Regions from separate parts of the Homo sapiens genome. Here regions 2, 3, 4 and 5 are each linked to region 1. The links come from fine-mapping of genetic effects on gene expression. A gene starts in region 1. Each other region holds a variant in brackets. All regions are shown on one strand. Distances are from middle to middle.

What was found.
Region 2: its variant is fine-mapped to the expression of ZDHHC18 in whole blood (INTERVAL, PIP 0.92).
Region 3: its variant is fine-mapped to the expression of ZDHHC18 in whole blood (INTERVAL, PIP 0.95).
Region 4: its variant is fine-mapped to the expression of ZDHHC18 in blood mononuclear cells (TOPMed, PIP above 0.99).
Region 5: its variant is fine-mapped to the expression of ZDHHC18 in whole blood (TOPMed, PIP above 0.99).

Annotation. Positions count from the first base shown.
Region 1 is chr1:26,823,217-26,828,910 of GRCh38, forward strand. It overlaps ZDHHC18 (zDHHC palmitoyltransferase 18), which reads left to right and starts at 3,472. Exons shown (of 8, transcript NM_032283.3): 1 at 3,472-3,923. The coding sequence starts at 3,589. RefSeq lists silencers at 3,254-3,406, 3,370-3,519, 3,530-3,739.
Region 2 is chr1:26,707,540-26,713,233 of GRCh38, forward strand. The region is part of intron 1 of ARID1A (AT-rich interaction domain 1A); the gene reads left to right. Among named protein-coding and RNA genes, the nearest start is that of ARID1A, 14 kb to the left of the region's middle. RefSeq lists an enhancer at 1-376. The variant C/CAG (reference allele first, on the strand shown) is at 2,989.
Region 3 is chr1:26,852,720-26,858,413 of GRCh38, forward strand. ZDHHC18 (zDHHC palmitoyltransferase 18) reads left to right here. Exons shown (of 8, transcript NM_032283.3): 7 at 34-146; 8 at 1,007-4,885. The coding sequence ends at 1,124. Among named protein-coding and RNA genes, the nearest start is that of SFN, 7.6 kb to the right of the region's middle. RefSeq lists an enhancer at 513-1,014 and silencers at 629-688, 2,261-2,433. The variant G/A (reference allele first, on the strand shown) is at 2,217.
Region 4 is chr1:26,758,003-26,763,696 of GRCh38, forward strand. ARID1A (AT-rich interaction domain 1A) reads left to right here. Exons shown (of 20, transcript NM_006015.6): 5 at 2,854-3,094; 6 at 3,382-3,471; 7 at 4,150-4,317; 8 at 4,971-5,283. Among named protein-coding and RNA genes, the nearest start is that of PIGV, 27 kb to the right of the region's middle. The variant T/A (reference allele first, on the strand shown) is at 2,696.
Region 5 is chr1:26,692,487-26,698,180 of GRCh38, forward strand. It overlaps ARID1A (AT-rich interaction domain 1A), which reads left to right and starts at 3,529. Exons shown (of 20, transcript NM_006015.6): 1 at 3,529-5,054. The coding sequence starts at 3,918. LOC124900417 (translation initiation factor IF-2-like) reads right to left here and starts at 3,919. Exons shown (of 2, transcript XM_047439473.1): 1 at 3,731-3,919; 2 at 1-3,479. The coding sequence starts at 3,919. The coding sequence ends at 2,793. LOC101928728 (a long non-coding RNA gene) reads right to left here and starts at 1,645. Exons shown (of 1, transcript NR_135804.1): 1 at 1-1,645. RefSeq lists enhancers at 199-713, 430-529, 2,362-3,298, 3,299-4,234 and silencers at 3,213-3,542, 3,633-3,792, 4,163-4,492, 4,543-5,142. The variant G/A (reference allele first, on the strand shown) is at 2,707.

The DNA of each region.
Region 1 (5,694 bases):
CTAGCTAGAATTCATTCGCATGGCCACATCTGTCTGTTAAAGAAGCCGGGAACTATAGGTATTGGTGAGAACAAGAGGTTTATACTACATTAAATGGCTCATTGGTGACATTTACGATAAGTTTTAGGGGAGTGATGTAGACAGGGGCCAACTTGTAAAAAGTTAGGAAATCATAGGGGATGAGGGATTTTGCCATGATGCCCAGGCTGATCTCGAACTCCTGAGCTGAAGCCAGCTGCCTGCCTCAGCTTCCCAAAGTGCTGGGATGGCAGGCATGTGCCACCATGCCCTGCCTGGTAGCAACTCTTTAATATGATCCTAATGATAATGAGAAAGATAAATCTGAACTAAGGTGAGAAGGTAGCCAACCATGGGAAGCTCCATTGGGTTTTTTAGGGTTTTCTTTTCTTTTTTTCTCGAGACGAAGTCTTGCTCTGTCGCCTAGGCTGGAGTGCAATGGCATGATCTCGGGTCACTGCAACCTCCGCCTCCCAGGTTCAAGCAATTCTCCTGCCTCAGCCTCCCGAGTAGCTGGGATTACAGGCGCATGCCACCATGCCCAGCTAATTTTTTGTATTTTTTTAGTAGAGATGAGGTTTCACCATGTTGGCCAGGCTGTTCTCGAACTTCTGACCTTGTGATCCACCCGCCTCGGCTTCCCAAAGTGCTGGGATGTGAGCCACCACGCCTGGCTTTTTTTTTTTTTTTTTTTTTTAGACAGGGTCTTGCTCTGTCACCAGGCTGGAGTGCAGTGGCGTAATCACAGCTCACTGCAGCCTTGACTTCCTGGACTCAGGCAAACCTCCCACCACAGCCTTCCAAGTAGCTGGAACTACAGGTGCATGCCACCATGTCCAGCTAATTTTTAATTATTTTTGTAGAGGTGGCATCTCGCAATGTTGCTGAGGCTGGTCTTGAACTCCTGGGTTCAAGCAATCCTCCCACCTTGGCCTCCCAAAATGCTGACATTATAGATGTGAGCACTGCGCCCAGCCTTGCTTTTTAATTGATGTAGAATTGAGCATGTGTTTGCGGTATTAATGAACAGGAAGAGAGATAGGACATGAGTTTGGAGTTCTATTGGGCTTAAATAAATAAATAAAATGGAGTTCCATCAGCCTTACTTAAAAAAAAAAAAAAAAGAGGCCAGGTGCAGTGGCTCACACCTGTAATCTCAACCCTTTGGGAGGCCGAGGCAGGCGGATCATCTGAGGTCAGGAGTTCGAGACCAACCTGGCCAACATGGTGAAACCCCGTCTCTATTAAAAATACAAAAATTAGCCGGGCATGATGGCACATGCCTGTAATCCCAGCTACTTGGGAGGCTGAGGCAGGAGAATCACTTGAACCCAGGAGGCAGAGGTTGCAGTGAGCCGAGGTCATGCCATTGCACTCCAGCCTGGGTGACAAGAGCGAAACTCCATCTCAAAAAAATAAAAAATAAAATAAAATAAGGATATGAGTGGAGGGTTGGCCATGGACAGAAGGAGGCCCACATCTTCTAAAAAAGAAGAAAGGACAGATGCAAATAAAGAGAAATTATGAGATAGAGAGGAGGTAAACTGAAAATCCAGTAGGATTGCTTTGGTTTCTGTAAAGTGACGAGAAAAAAGAAAAGGTTTCAGGTTGCAAGAGGACCCAGTTAAGGTGGGACAACAGGAATCTGTACTGGAACCAGTATGTCTAGTTTTGTGACTTTGTTCCACAGCCAAGGAGCAAAAAGGGAGGAAGCTCACCATGTGGTTTGCTCAAGATGGGGCTCATCATATTGAGAGCCTTTGGCACCAAAGGCACGGCTGAGCAGCCTTTGGCATATATATCAATTATTGATCCTTAAGGTCACTGTTGTCGGCTTCCTACTCCTCCCCATTGTATATTTTTACTTCCTTTTTTACTTTCTCCTAGTCTCCAGTTCTTTTTTTCCTTGCACTTTTCCTTAGGTTTTACAGTAACCACAGTGTGACAGACATACCCTAAGCTGACCCCCAATGATTCCTGCCTCCTGGTATTTACGCCTTGTGTGATTCCCTTTTCTTGAGTGCAGATGGCTCCTGTGCTTTGCTTTTAACCATAGGAGATGGCAATGATGATGGGATGCCACTCTGTCACATATATAGTAAGTTATATAAAACTCTATCATCATAGTCTGGAGCTAGAGACCCTCATTGTCAGTTTCAAGAAACTAAGTGGCTATGTAGGAGAAACCTGCATGGCAAGGAAATGTGATAATCTCTAGGAACTGCAGGTGGCTTTTGGATCCTGAGAGAGGCCTCCAGCAGACACCCAGCAAAAATCCCAGGCCCTCCTCAGTTATACAGTCACCCAGCAAAAATCCCAGGCCCTCTTCAGTTAAACAGTCGCAAGGAAGTTAATTCTGCCAATAACCCAAATGGGCTTGCAAGTGGATTCTTCCCTGGCTGAGTCTCCAGATGAGAATGCAGCCTGATTGCAGCCTTGTGAGACTAAGCAGAGGACCCAGCTAAGCTGTTCTCTGGCTCCTGACCTGGAACCTGTTAGATAACGTTTGTTTTTTGTTTTTTTTGAGACGGAGTCTTGCTCTGTCACCAGGCCGGGTGCAATGGCACAATCTCGGCTCACTGCAACCTCCACCTCCTGGGTTCAAGCAATTCTCCTGCCTCAGCCTCCCGAGTAGCTGGGACTATAGATGCCGTGCCACCATGCCCAGCTAATTTTTTATTTTTAGTAGAGACGGGGTTTCACCATATTGGCCAGGATGGTCTCTCTCGACCTTGTGATCCACCCACCTCGGCCTCCCAAAGTGCTGGGATTACAGGCGTGAGACACCGCGCCCGGCCGATAATGTTTGTTTTAAGCCTTAAATTTGTGGTAACTTGTTACACAGCAGTAGAAAATGAATACTCCCAGAATTCCTGAAAAAACACTGGGGCCCTCAGGCATGACCCCTCTACATTATGTGCTACCTAGGAAAATCTGGGCCTGGGCCCAGGACACAGAACTTGGTGAACGAGGCCAGAGGGTGTGCCACACACCTCCAGTGGGCACTCTGGACTTCAAGGTAGAAGAGGTCCTGGCTTTCAAAGCAAATCGTGTGCCCCACCTCCCCGCGCCTGCCTGCCTCTGCAAATGCCTGTCAGTTCGACCCTCAGAGATGGGCGAAGCCTGGGGAATTACAGACTGCCAGAAGTAGATCACGAAGTCCACCACCTGAATCTCGGCGTTTGGCACCGTGCCTGGTACACAGTGGACGCCCAACAAACGGCTTGCTTGCAGAACAGAAAGAGCCCTCGAGTGCGCGTCTGCTGGCCCCCTCTTTGTGCAGAAGGGAAAAGGGAGACTGGGAGGGCCGGGGACCTGCGGGGCCCCGCCGCGGGTCAGAGCTGGGCCTCCGGCCAAGCGCCATCCCGGGCCCAGGCGGAGGGGGCGCTGCGGCGGGAGGCCGCGGCGGGCGGTGGCGGCGGGCCGGGGGCGGAGCGATGGCGGGGCCGCCCCAGTGAGTGAGCGAGCGAGCGCCGCGCGCGCCGCCGCTGCCACCTCCGCTGCTCGGCCCGGTCCCGGAGTGGCCCGGCCGGCCCGCGGGGCGCGGAGCCGAGGCCCGCGGCTGGCTGCATGAAGGACTGCGAGTACCAGCAGATCAGCCCCGGGGCCGCCCCGCTGCCCGCCTCCCCGGGGGCGCGCCGTCCCGGCCCCGCCGCGTCCCCGACTCCGGGCCCCGGGCCCGCGCCGCCCGCCGCCCCCGCCCCGCCGCGCTGGAGCAGCAGCGGCAGCGGCAGCGGCAGCGGGAGCGGGAGCCTCGGCCGCCGCCCACGGCGCAAGTGGGAGGTGTTCCCGGGTCGCAATCGCTTCTACTGCGGCGGCCGCCTCATGCTGGCCGGCCACGGCGGCGTCTTCGCGCTCACGCTGCTGCTCATCCTCACCACCACCGGCCTCTTCTTCGTCTTTGAGTGAGTTCCGCTGCCTCGGCGCCCCCTCCCAGCCCCCTGCCGCGCACCCCACCTTCCCAATCCCTGCTGGGCACTCCGTGCCTTCCCCTTCGCCTCCCTGGTCCTCATCCTCCCCGCCCCTTTGGGATCCTCCTCGGGCCTCTTGTCTGCCCCCCTGGCCCCTGCGCACCCCCATCCCCGCCAGATGCCCCATCCTCCTTGGTCCATTTGGGTACCCCATCCGCGCTGGTGCCCTCCACCCTCCCAGCCCCTCCATTCTCCCTGACCCCACCCTGGCACCTGTCTGCCTGCCACTGCCAGGAACACCAGCCTCCATGCCCCTCCACGGCCCCCATCCTCGCTGCCCTCTCAGAACCTGCCCCAGGGCTTCTTGAACAGGCCCCTCCTGCTCACCCATCCCTGGACCATCTCTTGCCAACCCCCCAAGTTCTTTCTGACCCTTGTATCCCTTCCTGACCACTTCTAGATCTTGTGTGTCCTTTGGCTGTGCACACCCACCATAAACATCCTAGTCATCCTCGCTGCCCTCTCCGGGTCCCTCCAGGGTCCCCTCCTTTTCTCTAGTCTCAGACACCAACCCCGCTTTTGCTTCCCCTCAGCCACGCACACCCTAGGCCCCAAGGCATCTTTTCTCAAAATCTTTGGGCCTCTCGGGCCCCCTTTCCTTCTCCAGAACCTTCCTTAGGTTCTCCAGAGCTTCCTGTCCTTCCCTCAGATCCCGCCCGCCTCCACCCAGCCGGCTCCCAGGCCCCTGGCCCCCCTGCTGACCACCTGGCTTTCTTTCCCTGCTCAACATTCTGGAACGTCCCTCTGGCCTGTTCCACATCAGCAACAGCTGCGGTGCCTTGTTGTTTTTCAGGAAAGACTTCGGAGTGCTTTCGTGTGACAGGTCATATTTGCCCCCCTAGGTTTTTGTCCTCTTCATATCCCCCGGTGACCCAGGATTGGCCCACACATAATCTCCATTTTATGGATGGAGGGTCATATATTTGTATTAGAAGTTTTCCACCCACCTCTGAGCCACCTGCACTGTGATTCCTTGCACACACACTCACACGCCCACCCACCCACCCTTGCTTCATAAGCCCTGCTGTCCCCTCCCAACTCCCCATCCTTTGTGGTTGTTCCTCTTAATTATACAGTGTAGTTAAGAACTCTAACAGACCTGGTTCAAATCCCAGCTCCACCACCCACTAATTGCGTGACCTCAGGGCAGTCACTTCACCCCCTCAGTGCCCCAGTTTCCTCATCAGTAAAATGGGATTTATAATAGTACCCACCCCGTAAGGTTGTCCTGAGGGTGGCATGAGGTCACACATGCAAGCTTTTAGCCCAGTAACAAGCACACTATGTTGGCTGCTATTAGTACTTGTGTTGTCTTTATCAAAAAACACTTCCCAAGGGCATGTGGCCATGGTAAGGCTATCATAGAGACACCCGCCCCCAGGTACCCTTTCTAGCTGCCAGATCATGTATCTGCAACTTTGGGTTTCCCCTTGAAGCAAGGTGAAGACTTCCTATAAATTAGCTTCTCCCTTTACCCTTTAACCACACACTCTGCCCTTTTTTTTGAGTAGGGTGGATAAAAAGTTCAGGGATGATTTACAAGCAGAAGCTCTGGGGGGCCCAGAGCTCAGCTCTGGGCTGAGTTTCAGATCCACTTCCCTGGGCTGGCCACATGAGTGTTTTGGAAATGCCTTTTCTAGTATCCCCTGGGCTGCCCTCTCAGTCCCCACACCCAGGGCTGCAGCCGAGGCAGGAGGAAGCAGTA
Region 2 (5,694 bases), 120 kb before region 1:
ACCATGTTGGCTAGGCTAGTCTCGAACTCCTGACCTCAGGTGATCCGCCGGCTTTGACCTCCCAAAGTGCTGGGATTACAGGCGTGAGCCACTGTGCCTGGCAAGGATCCTGACTTTCAAATGATGGCCACCATGCATTTGAGTACTTATTATGTGCTAAGCATTATGCTTAGTCCTCTTGATGAATTTCCTAATTTAATCTTCAAAACTGTATAGGAGGTGGGTTCTATTATTAATCTTCCTCTTTTACAAATGAGGAAATAGAGTAAGATAAGAAATTTGCCCTAGGGAAAATAGCTGGTAAAAGGTAGAGTTGGGTTTGTCTGACAAGGTAGACAAGGTTTGTCTGACTCTTCAAAGGTATTACAATCTAAAATACTAACTTTGCTTCTCCAAAATAAATTACTCAGGCACCAAGATTGTTTAGGACATTATTTTTACAATAGCCTGAAACTCTTAAATGGGGTGAAAGACTGAAAAGCCATTAGTTAACAATTTGACATCGTGCCTAGAGCTCTGTCCTGTCATTCCCTTCCATCCCTTCCACTTAGGGTTTTGTTGTTTTGGATTTCCGATGAATGGCCATGGCACTTGGTTTATAGCTGCCTTGTGATTCCATTGGTGAGAACTGGCAGCATCTGGTCCTCTGGTCCCCGGTCCTCTCTTTCTCAAGAGGGATCTTTTGGGGTTGAGAGTGAGATTCAGCCTTTAAGATACAGTCCTTCACTTTTTTTTTTTTTTTTTTTTTTTTTTTTTTTTTTTTGAGACGGAGTCTTGCACTGTCGCCCAGGCTGGATTGCAGTGGCGTGATCTCGGCTCACTGTAACCTCTGCCTCCTGGGTTCAAGTGATTCTTCTGCCTCAGCCTCCTGAGTAGCTGGGATTACAGGTGCCCACCACCACGCCCAGGTAATTTTTTGTATTTTTAGTAGAGATGGGGTTTCACTGTGTTGGTCAGGCTGGTCCTGAACTCCTGACCTTGTGATCCACCTGCCTCGGCCTCCCAAAGTGCTGGGATTACAGGTGCGAGCCACCGCACCCAGCCAGAGTCTTTCACTTTGATCTGAGTGAAAGTGACTTGAATTATGAAAGTATATGCAGAGTGATATTACTTTTCCAGAAACTTGGAGCACTTGCTGAAGAGGCAGGGATTATTGTCTTTTTTTTTCTTTTGAGATGGAGTCTTTGCTCTGTCGCCCAGGCTGGAGTGCAGTGGCGCGATCTTGGCCCACTGCAAGCTCCGTCTCCTGGGTTCACGCCATTCTCCTGCCTCAGCCTCCCGAGTAGCTGGGACTACAGGTGCCCGCCACCACGCCCGGCTAATTTTTTTGTATTTTTAGTAGAGATGGGGCTTCACCATGTTAGCCAGGATGGTCTCGGTCTGCTGATCTCGTGATCCGCCCGCTTCGGCCTCCCAAAGTGCTGGGATTACAGGTGTGAGCCACCGCGCCCAGCGGATTATTGTCTTAATTTGCCACTTGGGGGAAATGAACACATAAAGTTGAGTGCCACATACAAAGTTTCATAGCAGAGTCATCTCTAAAACCTAGGTTTAAAGTTCTCTTAGGGCAGTATGACTTTAGGTAAGTCACTTCTCTGAATCTGTATTCTCAACTATATAATGAGGAAAAATATCTACCTTGAAGCTATGGTAAATATTAGATATGTGAAAGTACTATTCGTTTATCAAATACAATTCTAACATGACTCCTGATTGGTCAATCCCACAACTATCTCTCCCACTCTCCAGCCGTCCTTTTCAGAAGCAAGCCTCCAGGAGAGTTGATACCACTATTCCCACCTTCCTCCTGTGCATCCACCAATCTACCTCACATTCTCCTCCCCTGCACCCAGCACCCCTGGAATGCTACCACCCTGCTCCAGCCAGGAGGCCAGAAGGGTGATGTAGGAAGATTGCAGCACTACCATGGAAGTTCTCAACAGCACCCCCGACCCAGGACCCCAGGTTCCCACTGGCCCTGCTTCTCAATTCAGGAGAGATAGAATTGAGTGGTTAAAGCTAGTATTGGTCTTTACCGAATTCAAAATTTTCCCTAGTTTTTAGCTACATCTGAGTTACTGTAATGCTTTTTTTTTTTTTTTTTTTTTAAACTAAAATTTGTTTAGAGACAGGGTCTTTCTCTGTTTCCCAGGCTGGAGTGCAGTGGCTATCCACAGGCACAATCATAGCCCACTCTCAAACTCCTGACCTCAAGCAATCTTCCTTCCTCAGCCTCCCAAGTAGCTGAGCTACAAGCACATGTCACTATGCCAGCTATCAGGGCTAGCTTGCTTACTTTTTTTTTTTTTTGGAGACAGAATCTCGCTCTGTCGGCCAGGCTGAAGTGCAGTGGCATGATCTAGCTCACTGCAACCTCCGCCTCCTGGGCTCAAGCAATTCTCCTGCCTCAGCCTCCCGAGTAGCTGGGATTACAGGCGTGTGCCACCACGCCTGGCTAATTTTTGTATTTTTAGTAGAGACGGGGTTTCACCACGTTGGCCAGGCTGGTCTGGAACTCCTGACCTCAGGTAATCCACCCACCTGGGCCTCCCAAAGTGCTGGGATGACAGATGTGAGCCACCGCACCCGGCCTATCAGTGCATTAAAACACACAGGCCGGGTGCGGTGGCTCATGCCTGCCATCCCAGCACTTTGGGAGGCCAAGGCGGGTGGATCACAAGGTCAAGAGATCGAGACCATCCTGGCCAACATGGTGAAACCCCGTCTCTATTAAAAGTACAAAAATTAGCTAGGCGTGGTGGCGGATGCCTGTAGTCCCAGCTACTTGGGAGGTTGAGGCAGGAGAATCGCTTGAACCTGGGAGGCAGAGGTTGCAGTGAGCCGAGATCACGCTTGAACCTGGGAGGCAGAGGTTGCAGTGAGCCGAGATCACACCATTGCACTCCAGCCTGGGCGACAGAGCGAGATGCCATCTCAAAAAATAAAATAATACATACACACACACACACACACACACACACACACACA[C/CAG]CACTTGTTGTTCCAGCTTGAGAAGTGGATTAGTGCAGTGGTTCTCAGTGTGGTCCCTAGCCACCAGCATCAGCATTACTAGGTCCTGTTAAGAAGCACAGACCCTTGGCCAGTCCTATCGAATCCAAAACTCTGTCAATATGTTCTAACAAGTCCTCTAGGCCATTCTGATGAACACTGAAGTTTGAGAACTACTAGATTTATACATTTACACTCAACTGGGCTGCAGAGTATATCCAGATTACCTGAGGGGCTGCTTCTAAATTATACCATAGATTGATGTTTTATGTCTATGTGCCCTCCTATGAAAAAAGTATTAATGAATGGAGAAAAGGTTAAAATGCTTGAGGCTAGGGGAGTGTGTTAGTTTGCTTGGACTGCTGTCACAAAATACCATAGACGAGGTGGCTTAAACAACAAACATTTACTACTTGAAGTCCTGGAGGGTGAGAAGTCCAAGATCAAAATGCTGGCAGATCGGGTTCTTGGTGACAGTCATTTTCCTGGCATGTAGGCAACTGTCTTCTGTCTTCTTGCCGGTCTACCACCCCAATTAATGCCCTCTTAGCCTCTTATGTCTCTTGCTCTTTTTTTTTTTTGAGACAGAGTCTCGCTTTGTCACCCAGGCTGGAGTGCAGTGGTGCAATCTCAGCTCATTGCAACCTCCGCCTCCTGGGTTCAAGCAATTTTCCTGCCTCAGCCTCTCGTAGCTGGGATTACAGGTCCACGCCACCACGCCCGGCTAATTTTATTTATTTATTTATATATATTTTTTAGTAGAGACGAGATTTCACCATGTTGGCCATGCAAGTCTCAAACTCCTGACCTCAAGCCATTTGTCCACCTCAGCCTCCCAAAGTGTTGGGATTACAGACGTGAGCCAGCGCCCCCGGCTCTTGCTCTTATAAGGGCACTAAGCCCATCATGGGGGCACACCCTCATGACTTAATCTAACCCTAATTACCTCCCAAAGGCCCCACCTCCTATTAATAATACCGTAACGTTGGAGGTTAGGGCTTCAACATTAATTTCAGGGTTTCATAAACATTCAGCCAGTAACAGGAGAAGAAAGAAAATACTTTTGAGATGGACCTTTACTAGTGCAGTGATAAGTTCTAGTCACAAAACACGTCTGCTTGTTTATAGGACTTGGGGGCTCCCTGCCTTCCATTTCTCTTTCTCTTAGTTCTTCGGCAATATGGCATGAAGATAATCTGGACCTGTGGTCCTGGGATTTTGATGAAGGTGGGAAAGGTATTTTAAGATCTTGACTGGCAGGGCATGGTGGCTCATGCCTGTAATCCAAGCACTTTGGGATGCTGAGCTGGGCGGATTGCTTGAGCCCAGGAGTTCGAGACCAGCCTGAGCAACATGGCAAAACCCTATCTCTACAAAAACAAAAAAATCAGCCAGGCATGGTGATGCGCGCCTGTAGTCTCAGCTACGTGGGGGCTGAGATGGGAGGATCACTTGAGCAAGGAAGGCTGAGGCTGCAGTGAGCCATGATGGCACCACTGCACTCCAGCCTAGGTGACACAGCAAGACCCTGTCTATATACAGAAAAAAAAATAGGATCTTGACTGTGGTGGTCTCCAAGTATGGCCAATACAGTACACTTTTCCAAGAAAGTGATTCTTGAAAATGCCACTTAAAGGTCAGTGTTGGAGCACTAATTAAATGCCATGATGTCCCTTTTGCCTGTGATGGCTGTCTGATCTGAGAACAGGGCGTTGGGTGATTTGGTGTTCTCACAGTAAGCCTTTATTGACCTCTCTCCCTCACCCCCTACTTCTTAGTGGCCAGTCTGAGTTTTGCTGTGAATTCCTTTCCTTGTGTCTCTTCTTGTGAAGTTTTAGTAAATAAACCCTGTAAGTAGGCCGAGAGCAGTGGCTCACACTTGTAATCCCCGTGCTTTATGAGGCTGAGATGAGAAGATTGCTTGAGCCCAGGAGTTCGAGACCAGCCTTGGCAACATAGCAAGACCTTGTCTCTCTTAAAAAAAATTTTTTTTAAATTAGCTGGGCCTGGTGGCATGCACCTATTGTCCCAGTTACTTGAGAGGCTGAGGCAGGAGGATCACTTGAGCCCAGGAGTTTATTGGAGGCTGCAGTGAGACCTGATTGTGCTATTGGACTACATACAGCCTGGGCAACAGAGCAAGACCCTGTCTCAAATAAAAATAAACCCTCTAAGTAGATTCCTGAACAAGCCACCTCATCTCTGCAGTGAATGAGGACTCTCTGAGGGGTGGACATTTGAGCCAAGACCTGTCTCCAGTTGTATAACTTAATGAATAAGGATTGTGCTTGGCACAGATGTGGGAGTTACAGAAGTGGTCAGGTGATAAATATTAACAGTTTGAAGACCAAGTGAAGAACCAGTGTTCTAATTCATTTGGACTTTCTGAACACCTTATGTGGTTTCTCTGTCCTTCCCATTAAAAACAAGTATTCTGCTACCAGGCCTCTTTTTCCTCCTGCCTGAGAAGCGTAGCTGTGATCACTGGGACCTAGCTGCAATGAAGGCAGTGGTTTCCAGGAGGAGACTACAGTTTGATCTGTGATTTCATATTTGTATGTACAGATGAATACTTTAGTAAGGAATCTTATGTTTGTGTGTGCATGTGTGTTTTAAACTCTATCACTTTTAAGCTTTATTTTCTCTGTTCTTGGCTTTTTCTTTTTTCCTTTTTCATTTTCTCCTTTG
Region 3 (5,694 bases), 30 kb after region 1:
GGTACTTGACCTAGGCCTCCTTCCTGCTTGCAGATCAAAGGCTCGTGGTCCAGCAAGAGGGGCGGTGAGGCCTCTGTCAACCCCTACAGCCATAAAAGTATTATCACCAACTGCTGTGCTGTGCTCTGTGGCCCCCTACCTCCCAGGTAAGTGAGCGGGGTGCGGAAGAGGGGTAACAGGGCCATGCCTGGCCAGTGATCAAAGTGTTCCTGGATATCAGCCGACCTCCCCCTACACCCTAGATGCCCTCCGTCCACTACCCCCTGGAGGGCATTTGTCATGTGACGGAATTCCATGGAGAATTGTTATTTAATCACGTGCTCATTGTAGAAAAAAAAAATTAAGTACAAAACGTAAAACAGAGGAGCATTGGATATGACATGTAATTCTACTCCCCGGGGGTAGCCACCATGACTGTTTCAGCCATGTTTGAATGACACTGCCCTTCCGGTTGCCCACTGCCTGGACTGGGTGGCGACTCCATCCTCTCCTGGCAGTAGGAACCCTGGGGACTCAGCCCTGCTGGGTCACTCCCTGTTCATCCTGACACCAGGGGGCACCAGAGTTCCAGAACGGGGATTACATTGCTGTGGGTACTGCTAAGACAAGTCATTCCCACACAGTCATGTCACCTACCCCACCCAGTATCCCTGTCACCCAGCCTGCCTAGAGGGGAAGGGAACATAGGAATTTCATAGTCATCAAATACCTATTCATCCTTGCTTTCCTCCCTCACCTGCAGCCTGGCTTCTTGGCAGCCAGACAGGTGGGCCAGTTGGAATTAATAGTGAATAAATTCTGTGGCCAAAAGCCAGGTGGCCAGAGGGCAGAGAGAGGCCTGCCAGAGGTAAGAGTCTTGGGCCCCCAGATGGGCAGCAGCTCTCCTTTCCTCAGCCTTTCTCAGCCTGGGCCTTTCCTTGGCTGAGATAGACTCTGCCGTCCAACCCCTGGCCTAGAGCCTCAGTGTTGGGCAGAGCCCTCATGTGTCTCCCTTGTGTTTTGGAAGCCTAATTGACCGGAGGGGATTTGTGCAGTCCGACACCGTGTTGCCCTCACCCATCAGAAGCGATGAGCCAGCCTGCAGAGCCAAGCCTGATGCCAGCATGGTAGGAGGCCACCCCTGACCACGGCTCAGTACTTGCCACCTGCTGGCCTGTCTGACCCTCCGCACTCACCTGCCGGGACCCTCCCTATTCCATCCAAGGGAAGCAGAACTGCCAAAGACTCAAGTCTTTTCATATTTATTTCCCATCCTGCGTGGCTTTCCCTGAACTGTTCCGTGGCTGTGCCCTCTGCTCCCCAAACCCAGGTTCCCACAGCCTTGGGCCCTAGGTACCCCAGCTGATCAGTGCCAGGAGAGACCAGAGCCTCTGGAGGCTACCCAGGGGACCACACCAAGTCCTTGCCTGTGCCGGGCGAGCCCTGTGTGAGTGAGGCTGTGAACTGAGCGTGAGGCCTCCCAGGTGGGGGAACTGCTTGGGCCTTGCTGAGCCAGGGTCCTCAGGGTGAAGCAGGACTGAGGAGTGGCCAGCTCTGGATAGCTGGCTGTGGAGAGGAAGCCTCCATGGGCTGCTTTGGTCTGTGGGCTCCTTCATTCCCTTGGTGATAATTTCCCTTTATTCTGTGGGATTTTTGGTGGGGTTTTCCCCCCTTTTTTATGGAGTTGGCCAATAGGATTGAGTTGGGGCTCCAGTAGAGAAGGCAGGGTTGGTGGTGGGTGGGGGCAGCCTGTATCAGACAAAGGTAAATCAGCCAGCCAGGCACCCACAGCCTCAGCTCCTGTGCAGTTCCTGGGCAGCACAGTGGAAGTGGGAGCCTGGTCCTTCCCCTGCCCATGGAGAGCTCTTTAAGGGATCCCAGCCTGCCCCTCCACTTCTCTCCCAAGCCAGGTCCCGGCATGGGTGGGTTATGCTCATGCTGGCAATACTTGAAACGGGTTTATTAATGCTGGGTATTTTGCACAATTTTATAGACCTCTTTTCTACATAGTCTTTTTTAAATGGAAGGAGAAAATGTCAGCCACATTACTGTCTGTGTAGTGCCAGGTGAAGGGTTATCAGAAGGCTGGTTGGTTTTAATAAGTTTATTCCAAGAGACCTTCTGGCTGGAATGAGTGAGAGTGTGTGTGCATGTGTGTGTGTGTTCATGTGTGCCCTGTATGAATGTGGCTGGCTCCCATATCCCCTGGGCTGCCCCCTGCCCCATCCCCTTTGAGT[G/A]TCAGAAGCACTCTGAGCCAAGGGGACAGGGGGCACGTGCACTGGTCACGAGAAAACCCTGGGCTCCCACTGGGGCTCAGCCCAGCCTCCTATCTTTCCTTCTTCTATGGACTTCAGACAGCCAGTGTCTGGGGACTCTGCCACTCTACCCCCAGCCCTACCCACCAGCCCCCAGGTGAGGCTTCCAGCTGGGACCTGCCCAGACAGGCTGAGCCTGGGCGTGGTGGGTGGGGTGATGGCTCTGGGGAGCGGCTGCCATCCTACAAGCCACACCCCCTCCTCTGAGCTCTGAATATGGGACCCAGTGCCAGGAGCTGGAAGACAAGGTGTTTCTGCCAAACGGGGACCTCCATCCAGAGAAAAGGAAGAAGGTGCAGGGTGGGCCAAGAGGCAAGTGAAGGTTGGCCTGAGTCTGGGCCGGAAACTCAGAGGATGTTTCTCCTCTGCTGGGAGCTGTAGTTTCTTATCAAAATAGATATTGTTCCACCATCCCCCTCCTTGGCCCTTCAAGTGGGCTGAAGCCCTTGGAAAGTGACATAGGAAGTCCCCAGATCTTGCCCTTCTCACTCCAGAGGCTAGTGGTCACAGACAGCTGGGAATGGCAGCCACAGAGGGTCCCCTCTGGGAGAAACAGCTTCACCCCAGCCTCAGGGCCCTGGGCCATCACTGCAGTGGCCCTGGGAGGTGAGGAAGAAGCTGGCTAGAGGAGGGGGCTCCCACCTACCTTTTATTTAAGCCAGTATTCTTTGTTCCTGCTTGTAATAAAACTTCAGTTTATAAGAGTTGCTTTGCTTTGGTTTGGTTTTTGTTTGCTTTTCCTTTGCTGAGGCCCCAACTGGGAGCCCTCTGTTCTTTCAGACAAATTTGGTTCTTTCCTGGGGAGACTGTGAGAAGGCAGGCAGCCCAGTGATCTGGCTACATTTTCCCTCACCTGGCTGGAGCTCTGTCCGCTGGAGGAAGAGCAGAGAGGGCTGCGGCTGAGCCCCCATGGGCACGTGAAAAGAGGCCATCCTGTCCCCTCTTTGTCCCCTCCACCTTCCCCTGCCTCAGGGGCTTGGAGACCCCCAAATTCTTCTTCCCTACTGCCTTTCCACTCCGATCCCCAATGAGTGCCCAGCTAAGAAAATGTTTGAGACAGTAGATTCCAGTTTGAGAGCCGGAGCTTCCCTGGCTACCACCTCCAACCTGGGCACCAGGGCCCAGCCAGACAACTCATAACACTGGCCCACCTCTCTGGTATCTCCCTCAGGAGGACACCTGTCAGGATTTTGCCATCTCCTGCACAGCCTGAGGGGAGCTAACAGGCCTCTTTGCAGAGGGTTAGCTGGTAAGACCGTTTCTTCCCTGTCGGCCAGCACTGCCCGCTCCCCTCACACACCATCTCATCCTCATCGCATGCCTCGCCAACCCCATGGAGCCCGTCCATCTGTCTGGTGTGTGGTGCGGTGTGTGTGCTGGTGGTGGTAGGGTCTCCAGGGACTCCCCGCTAAGCAGAAGGATCGGGATATAGGGCAAGGCTAAAAGCCCAGCCCCATTGTGGACTGAGGAAGTAGCTTCTCGCAGAGCAGCTCTCCAGCTGGAAGAGGAGGTGGAGGGTGAGGCTGGGGAGAGGATGGCGAACCTGCCCTGAGGTGCTTGGGTCTGTGCTGGTGGGGTCCTGGTATGCAGGGGCCACCGGTCACTAACACTCTTATGTCCTGGCTTTCTGTCCCCGCTGAGCTTTCTCTCACCCGCCCGTTTTCTCTCCTGCTTCATTGCCTGCTGCCTAAGCCTTGGCCCTTCTCTCGGGCAGAGGCAGGTGCTGTGGCAGCACCTCTCCCCACCACCGGGGCCCCTGCAGGCCGCCTCCCTCCTCCCAGGCCTGCTAACCCTCTCTCTTCTCCTTCTTTGCTGTCCTGCCGGGGATCTCCAGTGTGTGCGGGGGCTTAAGGACCTCCTGAGGACCGCTGCTCTCTGCCTCTCCAGGAATGGCCTGGGGGGAGCCAGGCACCCGGCACCTCCACCTGCCTAACCTGTGGCCCATCTGCCACCATCTGTGCCTACAGGGTCTGCCCCCCAGCCTGCCCGGCCTGTGTGCTCTCTAGGACCCCCATAGGGGGCAGGGGCTGGCCTCTTTGCCCCATTCCCGCTCCATGCCGGCCAGAGTGTAGAAAGCCATAACGCAGCCATCAGCACAATAATGTGACTCTACGCTGATATGCTCCCTCTCTCCTCCACTGACTTCCCCTTCCCGGATTTGTGAGGTGTCAAGACTAGGAATCTGGCCTTAGAGCCTGCCCCTCCACCCCCTCAGATCAGGCATAGCCATAGTCAAGCCCAGCAGGTTTCCTCAGGAGCTGTCTGGGGTGTTGATGGTGGATGACGCTGCTGAACAAGTTTGGTGACTGTTCTAAGCACAACTGGCTTGATACTGTTCCCACGGCCTGTCCACCTCCCACCCCCAACCCTCCACCAGAGTAGGTAGGATGTAGGGAGGGTGCGTGCCTCCTTTGCTCTAGGCACTGAGGGACCAAGCTAGCCGTGCACAGCCCCATACACTTCAGGGGACTAAAGGAAAGAGCTGAGCCAAGGAAAATCAGCTGAGCCCAGGGCTGGGGGCTGCTTGTCTGCTATCCTGTACCTTTTTTTTTTTTAACCAAAATAAAGATTCCCCTCTTCTTGCCATACCATTGGCTGTCTGGTGGCGCCTTTACTTTGGGGCCCAGGGATGGGACCTGCAGTGGGCGTGTGGAACATATGGCTCCCCCTCGCTCCCAGCTTTCTTCCAGCTGGCCAGTGCTGCTCTGGAGATTTACAAGCACAACGAAGCCAGGAGGGACACAGGAAAAGTGGCTGACATCCTTTTCACTCTGCCCCTCCAGAACTCTTGGTCTCAATTCCAGACACCACCCAGCCTTAGCTGACCTCTGGATTCTGATAGGTCCCAGTGCAGGCTGAGACAGAGGGTTTAACTCCAGTTTGGGACTGCCATACCCATGAACTGAGCCCAGCCCAGGGTAACGATCTCATGGAAACTTCTCTCTCCCCAGTTGCTGCACTACATCAAGATACACACATGTGCATACACTGTACTATGGGCTAAAAAAATAGCTACCGCTACCGTTCAGCAAGGGCTTGCCGAGTCCCGGGCCCATTTTCTCATCTTAACCTGTGAGGAGGATGATGTCAGCCTTTTTACAGATGAGGGAACTGAGACTCAAGGAAGAAACAGGAGCTGCCCAAGGTCACCCAGCTGGCAAAGCAGCAAATCCCAGATCGGAACCTGATCTCTGCCCCGAGCTCTGAGCCATCTGCACTACCCAAGGAATGAATACAGCGGTGGGAGGATGAGATCTTGGAGAAACCCTAAAATTAGAGAATGTCATAGCCAGTAGAGGGCTTAGAGTTGATCTGGGCCAGCCTCCTTGTTTTACTGATGGAGAAATTGAAGCCCAGAGGCAGGAAGGGACCTGCCCAAGGCCTTATAACAGAGCTGGGA
Region 4 (5,694 bases), 65 kb before region 1:
TCCTATTCTGTTCTGAAATACACTTCTTTTTCCTGTAAGCAGGAAAGTTCTTATTACCAGAAGCTGGCAGTTTGATAAGGAATGGAGACTGTAGGAAGGAGTGGGTGAGGGAACCTTCTGGTCCCTAAAACAGCATTGAGCTGTGGAATTTGCTATATAGACTGTAGGGCCTAACGAGTGCTTCTTGAGACCCTTTCTACTTACAGTGGCTCTCCTTGTCATCTTGCTGCCTCTTTTAGTTTGTTCTTGGCTCAGAGGCTAGATGTCCATGGTATAACTTAGCCATCAAAACAGGGATGGGGCTGGGCACAGTGACTCATGCTTATCATATCAGGAGTTTGGGAGGCCAATGTGGGAGGATTGAGCCCAAGAGTTTGAGACCACCCTGGGCAACATGGCAGAATCCCTTCTCTACACACACACAAACACAGCCAGACATGGTGGCGCCTGCCTGTACACACACATACAGAGCCAGATGTGGTGGTGCGTGCCTGTAGTCCCAGCTACTCAGGAGGCTGAGGTAAGAGGATCACTTGAGTTGGGCAGGTTGAGGCTGTAGGGAGCTGGCATCATGCCAATGTACTGCAGCCTGGGGTAACAGAGTGAGACCCTGTCTCAAAAAAAAAAAAAAAAGAAGAAGAAGAACCAAGGATGTAATCCCTCTATCTTGGGATTAACATGGGGCTCTTCATAGCTCCAGGTACTTTAGTCCTTCGAGAAAGGAGGATGTCCTTTGCTGTTACCTTGTGGTTGGCCTCTTGAAATCATTCTATGCTGGAACGAATTCTCATTGCATTTTTAAAGTATGCTATGGCATACCTGGCCTACTTCTTACCAACAAGAAAGCTAGCATTTTCTGACTTCTCAGCTAACATGGAAAGCTGGACACAGGCACAAATGCACACCTACCTACCTGCCTTCAGAGCAAACTTTGTCTCCAAGAGCTCAGCAGAAATGCTCCCAGCCTAATGAGGTACCCAAGTGGTTTGTGGAAGGTCCACCCAGCTTGGATACTTGAAGGAGAGCCTAAAAGCTGCCCTCTGACCTCCAGTGTTAACTGTCAGATCTTAGGGTCAAAGTCACTTTCAGCCGATCTTTCCCGGGTGAGCTTGTTTGTGTGAGCAGGAATAGACTCAAATCAAACCAACTTGGATCTCCTCCTCCTTGAGATGTGTGGTGTTTTCGGTTTTGTTTTTGTGTGTTTGTTTGTTTGTTTTTGAGATGGTGTTTTGCTCCGTTACCTATGCTGGAGTGCAGTGGTACAATCTCGGCTCACTACAGCCTCCTCCTCCTGGGCTTAAGTGATTCTCCCACCTCAGCCTCCCAAGTAGCTGGGACTACAGCTGCACACCACCACACCTGGCTTATTTTTGGGGGTATTTTTAGTAGAGACAGGGTTTTTGCCACGTTGCCCAGGCTGGTCTCGAACTCCTGGGCTCAAGTGATCTGCCCGCCTCGGCCTCCCAAAAGGCTGGGACTACAGGCATGAGCCACTGCGCGTGGCCCAGTGTGTTTCTTTAAGAGAACTCTTTATTTACCATTTAAGTATCAGGGTTTTCATCCTTTCTTCAATTACAGTTAGTTCCCAGCCTGAAGTAATGTTGCTAGAGAATGAACATGGGGCAGGGGATGGAGTTAGGGTACATTTTCTGGGGTGAATATTTTTCATATTGAGCTCCTGTTTGCTAATACTGGAGTTTGTTGACCTAGAGTGAACTCTTTATTGATTAACTGAAGACAAGCAAAGCCTACAAACAAATACCAAGTTCTCACTGAAAAACATAAAAGCTGGGAAAAAAACAGAATTTGTTCAATTGGCAAACATTTGTTGATTACTGTTATAGACCAGGTGTTAGGAGTGTAGTCCCAGACCTTCTTGGCAGTTAAGAAATTGTCTTTCTCATCCAATGTCTCTCTTTCTTACCTCCTACCCCTTATGTTGCAAAGTATGGTGACTTGGAGTGAGTCCTTGGCAAATGGAGGCTGTGATAATCTATAGTAATAATCATCATTGTAATATATAATAGAAGGAGAGGGGATCTATAAATGTTTCCCAAACTTGTTAACATTCTCTTGTAGCTCCTGGTGCCATCCTGGCAGCATTTTGTAAAGTTTTGCTATTAGAAAAGAACTAAAGCCTCACTGAAATAGTTGCTTTCTTATGACTGTAGAAGTTATGACTGGGAAAGAAGACAAAAGTGCTAGATCTGCTTCTGAGGGGATAGAATAGGAGTCAGCAAAACTCAGTCACACCATTGTTTGTATATTGTCTGACTACTGTTGCACTATAGTGTCAGAGTTGAGTAGTTTTGAAGGAGGCTTTATGGCCCACAAAGGTCTAATATATATTCCACCTGGTCCTTAACAGAGTTTGCCATATGTAAGTTATAGTATGATGACTAGGGCCGGGCGCGGTGGCTCACGCCTATAATCCCAGCACTTTGGGAGGCCAAGGAGGGTGGATCACCTGAGGTCGGGAGTTCAAGACCAGCCTGACCAACATGGAGAAAACCCGTCTCTACTAAAAATACAAAAATTTAGCCGGGCGTGGTGGTGCTTGCCTGTAATCCCAGCCACTCGGGAGGCTGAGGCAGGAGAATTGCTTGAACCCAGGAGTCAGAGGTTGCGATGAGCCGAGACGTGCCATTGCACTCCAGCCTGGGCAACGAGTGAAACACTGTCTCAAAAAAAAAAA[T/A]TTTTTTTTTTAATAAAAATAGTATCATGACTAAAGAACGTGTGTGATGTATTTGCTCTTGGTTGTTTAAGGAAAATGCTAAGCAAGTAGTAGGATTATTGAAAGTAGAATCTTTCTGCCTAATATTACTAATCCATGTTCTTATATATATGTTCTAGGATCTATCTGGTTCAATAGATGACCTCCCCATGGGGACAGAAGGAGCTCTGAGTCCTGGAGTGAGCACATCAGGGATTTCCAGCAGCCAAGGAGAGCAGAGTAATCCAGCTCAGTCTCCTTTCTCTCCTCATACCTCCCCTCACCTGCCTGGCATCCGAGGCCCTTCCCCGTCCCCTGTTGGCTCTCCCGCCAGTGTTGCTCAGTCTCGCTCAGGACCACTCTCGCCTGCTGCAGTGCCAGGTACCCTCAAGTGCTGGGCTTTAGGGAGAGGGAAAGGTGACTGCCCCCAGTAATATTAAGGAGCCCTAGTCTTCCACTGGCAGAGAAAGCATCTCTGGCTCATGCCTGCATAGTTTCCCCTTAGCATTTGGAGAAGGAGATTGGAACCTGTTGGCTGGATCTCTTTGTGTGTGATACTGGGAGGTACTTGGCCTCTTCATGAGCCATTTCTAGCTCTGAATTAACTTCCTAGTTAGAATTCCCAGGCTTAGCCATGATATGCTTATGTTGTTCTTTGTCTGGAGCAGGCAACCAGATGCCACCTCGGCCACCCAGTGGCCAGTCGGACAGCATCATGCATCCTTCCATGAACCAATCAAGCATTGCCCAAGATCGAGGTGAGAGCCTGGGTGTTGGGGAGGGGCAGGGAGCTAGGGCAGACATTTGAGTGCCCTATGCAGTAGCTTTTGGAGAGCTGTTTGACCATGAAGCTTAGGACAATCCCTGCAGCAAATTGTTTTTATATTCTTTAAAAGTTGACGTAATAATTGTACTCATTTATGGGGTACATAATGATGTTTCAATAGAAGTAACGTATAGTGATCAGATCAGGGTAATTAGCAGATATATAATCTCAAACACTTATTACTTCTTTGTGCTGAGACCCAGCAGCAAATTGTGAAGTTAGAGTGGGCTTGGCCGTGTTAATGTCTCCATTTCACAGTACTTGTCTGTGTTTTGATGGTTGCCCCCTTACATTTTGCCTCATTTGGTCGGCAGTTGCTGAAGACTCAATGTTCGGTCTTCACTCATCAAGTCATTCATTTTGGTTTTTGTCATTGTTCTTTGTCTTTTCAAACCTCCATTTAGTAGAAACAGCTGGCATGCCCTGGTTAATGGTTCATGTCACTCTGAAGGTGCCTAAAATGACACACCACTATATAGAAAATCAGATAGAGACTCCATGCAAGTGGCTGCTAAAGAAAATGTAGATGGTAAAGTCCCAGGATAAGGATGGAGAGCATTTGTTCGCATTGTATAAAGCTAATAACTATATGGATGCTACCCACAAATAGGTTATATGCAGAGGAACCCCCAGATGCCCCAGTACAGTTCCCCCCAGCCCGGCTCAGCCTTATCTCCGCGTCAGCCTTCCGGAGGACAGATACACACAGGCATGGGCTCCTACCAGCAGAACTCCATGGGGAGCTATGGTCCCCAGGGGGGTCAGTATGGCCCACAAGGTCAGTATACTACCCAGTTAGGAGTAGATACGGGTGAGAGGAGAAAACAGTTCCTTGTCTGATATGTTGCCATCTAGCTTGTAACCTTGTGAGAGAAGGGCTGTCCTTTGCCTTTAATCCACCCAGCCCAGGCCCTGAAGTAGGGCAAGGCAAGATTCCATTTGTCTCCACTTATTCTGTCACCATGAGAAAGTCTTTCAATTTCACTGAGCCTCTGTTTCATTTATAAAAATGGAGATTAGGTGTTTACTCCACCATTGAGCACAGACAATTTATACATGGTAGCTCTTGGTTATTATTTTTTTATTAATTATTTTTAGTGAATAAGTCATAATGGAATAGATCTTTGCTCAAAATTGCAGCCCTAGGCTGATCAAAAGTTGAGAATCTTACACAGAGCATGGAAATAGAAAGGAAGTTATCTTCTTCTGGAAGTTGAAATGCCTGTGTGGCAGCAAAGCCAGCCTTGCTCTGACCTGCCTTTACATGCTTCTGGAATCCCCCCCTTTTTCTCATGGCGATAAAGGCTACCATGAAGTTGATCTCTTTCCTAACCAAAATATTGAATGACATTGTTTGGTGTTCTAGAGTTGAGAGATATTAGTGAGTTGCTAGTGAGTGACTAACCAAGTCTTGTCTTCCTCCCCTCCCAGGTGGCTACCCCAGGCAGCCAAACTATAATGCCTTGCCCAATGCCAACTACCCCAGTGCAGGCATGGCTGGAGGCATAAACCCCATGGGTGCCGGAGGTCAAATGCATGGACAGCCTGGCATCCCACCTTATGGCACACTCCCTCCAGGGAGGATGAGTCACGCCTCCATGGGCAACCGGCCTTATGGCCCTAACATGGCCAATATGCCACCTCAGGTTGGGTCAGGGATGTGTCCCCCACCAGGGGGCATGAACCGGAAAACCCAAGAAACTGCTGTCGCCATGCATGTTGCTGCCAACTCTATCCAAAACAGGTAAGGCCTGGGAAGCAGAGAGGGTGTCAGTGCAAGAAAATGTATTATAGACCCACTCAGATTATTGAGATGCTTCTGGACCTAAACCAGGGGGGGAAAATGGGTGTGTGTGTATGAAGTGTTAATTCTTACATACCTTAGATGGGTCTGAAATTTCACGTGACTAAACATCATATGTAATGAGCTTTATAAAAGACAGGTTTTTGGCCGGGCGTGGCGGCTCATGCCTGTAATCCTAGCACTTTGGGAGGCCAAGGCGGGCAGATCATGAGGTCAGAAATCAAGACCAGCCTGATCAACATGGTGAAACCCCGTCTGTACTAAAAATACAAAAATTAGCTGGGTGTGGTGGCGCACGCCTGTAATCCCGGCTATCGGGAGGCTGAGGCAGGAGAATCACTTGAACCCAGG
Region 5 (5,694 bases), 130 kb before region 1:
TTTAAGAACAGACAGCTCCAGACGGAAATCCACGCCAGGCTTTGAACTCTGCTTCTGGCTTCCGTCAACTGACATAGTTGCCCTTTTGCTCAAACTCGCAGCTCCAGTTCGCACTCGAGAGAGCTCTGCTGGGTGTCTGCTGCTGTTCCGCGGCGGGAACGTGTGGGGGCAACAACCTGGCGCTCCAGCGATTCTCCACGCCTTAGTTAGGAATCTAAGCAAACCCTCGCTAGGGTCCCTGGGCTTAAGACGACTTCTCCCACAAGGATTGGGTGGAGGAAGGAGCCGAGCCCGATCTTCTGTTTGTTTGTTGAGTTTTGTATTTCAGACATTTAGGGGAAGCAAATTGCGAGAAAGGAAGGGCTGTCTTCCCTGCAAACGTTTCCCTCTCCTAGCAAACCCTCCAGGCCTCGGTTCCACATTTTGCAGTTGACTCTCTGGATTTTAATAGGTTGTTCCCTTGTCCTCGGGCCCAATCCATGCACGCTGTGCAGCCGGATAAAATGGGAGCACATCCTCTGCCATTTTCAGCCGGTTTGTCCTGGCAGCCCTGCCCCCTTCCTTGGCTGCTCTGCCGCTGGAGTTAATACGCCCAGAAACTCCGCCTGATCCTCCAGGCCTCAAATCCAGTCCGCGTTTGCTAAGTGCCGTGCGGTCGGGGACGGCGATAAGAACTCTCCTGTGAGGGAGAGCTAGCGAGACTTTAGTCCGGTTTCCATGTCAACGATTCAGTCCATATTTGCCATCAGGCTGTTGGCCGAGGTGCTTTCGCGAGGGTAGCGCTGTCCTAGTCCTAGTTCTCCAATCTGCGCCGGGATTCCTGAGCTGCCTGGGTGTGGGGTTAAAAGGCAGGGGCCGTGGGGGAAAAAACTCCACCGAAGGGAGGACCCACTGCCCCCAGCCGGGGTCTCGCTGCTCGGGCCAGCCACGTGCCCAGCTCCTCCCCTCCCCCGCTTTCCCGTTGCCACTGCCCCTAGGGAAAGCTGATGGGCCAGTTTCTAAAAAAGTTCCCTCAGCCCAACATTTCCTGGGATCGTGGTGTGGGGCTCTAAAAGTAAAAGTGGAAGAGAACCCTAGTGAATTAAAAAAAAAAAAAAGTAGAGAAATTCCACATTATCTCCTCCAACCCAGGTGGATAGATTTTTGTGCACTTTACCTTATTGCTAGAGAAAAATGGTGACTGTTTTCAAAACAGCTTGCCCACGTGTAGGGAAGGAGATTTTTGGCGCTTTCCATATTTCACAGCCATTGAAGAAAGGGGATGAGGGCTTTCTTTGGAGAGAAATCCATTCTAGCTTCCAGATTTTCACTGGGCTCCAGGTTTCCCATTACACCCCAGCTCTAAGGAAAATGGCAGAGTAATGGCATGTAAAAAAATCCTCATTTGTGTGCAGGACTCAGGACTGTTTGCCAGCTCAGGGGCAGTTGATTAAATAGCCAAGCTCTATTTATGAGGCAGCCTATAATTTGGTTTCTAGGACCTAATGCACCGGGGAGAGTTGTTGCCCCTGAGGACTGTGAGTGAAAAGAGGGCACTGGCCCATACCAGTCAGTCGGATCTTCTTGGTAGGCTGGTTTGGTTCTTGGCTTGAGGCCGGGGGAGGGGAGAAGAATAAAACTGTGGGATTTTTTTTTTTTTTAAATCTCATCACTCTTAGATTAACAGGAAGGTTTTGCCTTTCTGGTGTAGGATGCAGTAAGTTTTCTTGGGGAGAGAAATGAGTTCAGGCTTTGGAATTATTCATAGTGACCAGGGACATTGCCAGCACTCCCGGGTCCTGCATAATCTAAGATAATGCTCCTGTGGCCATGAAGTCTCCCTTTACAAAATCTGAGGGGGAAAAGAGATCCTGGTGTCTAGGAACACTGGCCTGGGCCTTTCCCAAGGCAGCCTTGGGTCTGGTGAGGAGCTGGAATCCCCTCTGGCTTTTGTAGCCTGTCATATCAGAACATTCCAAGTCAGCCTGAGGAAGAAAAGGCTGCTGCTGGGATTTGGTGGGGCCTGTAGATCAGGAGAACACTGGAGCTTTCTGTGTATGTCGATCTTTTCAGATAAACCTGGCCTTCTACCCAACTCCAGCTCAATCGGGGTCTCTTAGAATGTAATGGTAAACTTTAAACAATCTTTACGCTACAGGATAGAAAACAAATCTGACAAGCATCCATTTTCTAAGTGACTTGTTGGACTGTGCCTTTTCTTCAAGGAGAAAATGGTTTCCATTTTCTGCATCTCTCTTCTGTAATGGTTTGAACACTCAGGTTCCTGCAGTCCCTGGAGCCTCTTCTGTGGGTTTTCAGTATTAGAAGGTACTGTCTTTGGAGACTGGGGCTACTTGTCATGGTAGGCTAAGTTTTCTTAAGAGGGAGTGAGAAACGGTGTTTAGGTTTTCCTGCTGGGTAACTGTTCTATGCTCCTAAAGCAACTTCAGTGGCCTCCATTTTAAGTTAGTGGTGAGATGATCAGTTTTGACTTCAAATCCATTTTGATATTCTGATCCCATTGTTGAATGTGCTCACAACTTGATTTTTTTTTTTTTAAAGGCAAGTAGACCGAAGGCAGCTTTGGTGACTCCACTTCTTTTTAAAGTCACCCTCCTCTGCCCTCTGACTTTAAGTGACAGGCAGTTCCCTCCCCTCTCTTTCAATTCTGTAAAATGGGGATAATCCGGACCTCATGCCCCCAGAGCCTTGTAAGGACCGGCTAAT[G/A]AGGGCAGGCGAGTGGGAAACGAATCGTCTGAACAATGATCAGTCATTCTTTCGGGCTTGCAAAGAGGGTAAAAAAGGTTGGGTCTTTAGCGGGGTCCGTAGAAGGCTTTGAAGACGAAAAGTGCTGTAGAGGTGCTAAGCAGCAGCCAACGGACCGGGCCCGCTGCCAGGGGGTCAGGGCTGGGCCGAGGCGGCCGCGGTCTCAGGCTCTGGCCAATTTTGCAGCCGCGGGTAAAGTTCACGCTGCCCGCTCCCCTCGGTACGGCCGGGAGGGGACAGACCTGGATAGGGACGCCGGGAGGGAGGCGGCGCAGGCTCCAGAGATGCGCGGGCTCCGGGCCGGGTTTTCTCCGAAGCCTTCGGCGGCGGCGCTGCCTAGCGAAAGCGGCTGAGGGCCTGCCGCCGCCGCGGCTTGTTCTCTCCCCTCCTCCTTTGTGAAGGGAAGGGAGCGAGTCCGTTCCACGGCCTGCGCCCGCTCCGCTCTCCACTCCGGGTTTGCCAGGCGGCCGCGACGGCGCTGGGTAAAATGGCAGTGCTGAGCCTCGTGTCGGAGTGAGGGGGACTCGGAGGAGAGTGGGGCGCTCTAGCCGCTCAGTCCGGCCGACCGCTTGCTCGCCCGCCCGCTGCCGCGCAGCAGCCTCGACCCAAGCCGCAGCTGGCGAGGGGAGGCAGGGCGCCGGGCTCGGCCCGCGCTCTGACTCTGGCTCCCGGCGCCCCGGCTGCTGCCGCGCGCCCTCCAGCCCGCCCGTCCCGGGTCCCCCTCCCCCCGCTCCCTCCCTCCCTCCCCGCCCCCTCCCCCTCGCCTCCCTCCCTCCCTCCCTCCTCCTTTCTCCGGCAGCAGAAAGCGGAGAGTCACAGCGGGGCCAGGCCCTGGGGAGCGGAGCCTCCACCGCCCCCCTCATTCCCAGGCAAGGGCTTGGGGGGAATGAGCCGGGAGAGCCGGGTCCCGAGCCTACAGAGCCGGGAGCAGCTGAGCCGCCGGCGCCTCGGCCGCCGCCGCCGCCTCCTCCTCCTCCGCCGCCGCCAGCCCGGAGCCTGAGCCGGCGGGGCGGGGGGGAGAGGAGCGAGCGCAGCGCAGCAGCGGAGCCCCGCGAGGCCCGCCCGGGCGGGTGGGGAGGGCAGCCCGGGGGACTGGGCCCCGGGGCGGGGTGGGAGGGGGGGAGAAGACGAAGACAGGGCCGGGTCTCTCCGCGGACGAGACAGCGGGGATCATGGCCGCGCAGGTCGCCCCCGCCGCCGCCAGCAGCCTGGGCAACCCGCCGCCGCCGCCGCCCTCGGAGCTGAAGAAAGCCGAGCAGCAGCAGCGGGAGGAGGCGGGGGGCGAGGCGGCGGCGGCGGCAGCGGCCGAGCGCGGGGAAATGAAGGCAGCCGCCGGGCAGGAAAGCGAGGGCCCCGCCGTGGGGCCGCCGCAGCCGCTGGGAAAGGAGCTGCAGGACGGGGCCGAGAGCAATGGGGGTGGCGGCGGCGGCGGAGCCGGCAGCGGCGGCGGGCCCGGCGCGGAGCCGGACCTGAAGAACTCGAACGGGAACGCGGGCCCTAGGCCCGCCCTGAACAATAACCTCACGGAGCCGCCCGGCGGCGGCGGTGGCGGCAGCAGCGATGGGGTGGGGGCGCCTCCTCACTCAGCCGCGGCCGCCTTGCCGCCCCCAGCCTACGGCTTCGGGCAACCCTACGGCCGGAGCCCGTCTGCCGTCGCCGCCGCCGCGGCCGCCGTCTTCCACCAACAACATGGCGGACAACAAAGCCCTGGCCTGGCAGCGCTGCAGAGCGGCGGCGGCGGGGGCCTGGAGCCCTACGCGGGGCCCCAGCAGAACTCTCACGACCACGGCTTCCCCAACCACCAGTACAACTCCTACTACCCCAACCGCAGCGCCTACCCCCCGCCCGCCCCGGCCTACGCGCTGAGCTCCCCGAGAGGTGGCACTCCGGGCTCCGGCGCGGCGGCGGCTGCCGGCTCCAAGCCGCCTCCCTCCTCCAGCGCCTCCGCCTCCTCGTCGTCTTCGTCCTTCGCTCAGCAGCGCTTCGGGGCCATGGGGGGAGGCGGCCCCTCCGCGGCCGGCGGGGGAACTCCCCAGCCCACCGCCACCCCCACCCTCAACCAACTGCTCACGTCGCCCAGCTCGGCCCGGGGCTACCAGGGCTACCCCGGGGGCGACTACAGTGGCGGGCCCCAGGACGGGGGCGCCGGCAAGGGCCCGGCGGACATGGCCTCGCAGTGTTGGGGGGCTGCGGCGGCGGCAGCTGCGGCGGCGGCCGCCTCGGGAGGGGCCCAACAAAGGAGCCACCACGCGCCCATGAGCCCCGGGAGCAGCGGCGGCGGGGGGCAGCCGCTCGCCCGGACCCCTCAGGTACACAGCTGAGTGGGGAGGGGGCTGGGGCGAGCGTGGTCCTGGGGGTGGGTGGCGGCTGCGGTGAGCGGGCCACAGCCTTGGGCTCCCCTCAGTCCCGGGCCCCCACTGCTGGGGAGCTGCCATTGTCTGGCTCTTCTCTCTTAAAATGGCTGCCTGTCTGCCTTCCTCTCCTTCCCTCCTTCAGCCTTTGTGTTGGGTTTTTCCAGAGGTGTCTGCTCCTCTTTTTCCTCTCCCCTGGTCCCTTCGAACTCCAGGGGTCTTGATGGGGGTGCGGGGCAGAGTGTGCGGGGAAGGGCCTGGCCGGGGGTGAGGGGGTGAGGGGGCGCTGGGGGCTCAGGTTAGGAGTGTAGGCAGTGGTAGGAGCCCAGGAGTTGAATGAACGTTTCTTTGCTCACCTGCCGCTCCTCTCCGTCCCCCGGCCTTCCTCTGGGCCGCCCCCCATCTGTGCTTTCAAAGAGGGCCCCTAGAGCTCGAGGGGACCTCGAGGGGAGGGCAGGGGACTGCTTGGGAGCTGCTAGAGGCCGGCTGCGGTTCACCTAGGGCAGCCCGGTCCATCTCCTGTCTTAGGCTCCGCCGGCCCAGTGGCCTGGGCTTCTCCCTGGAAGTGCTGGTAAACAGCTGAGTGATTGGAGTAGTA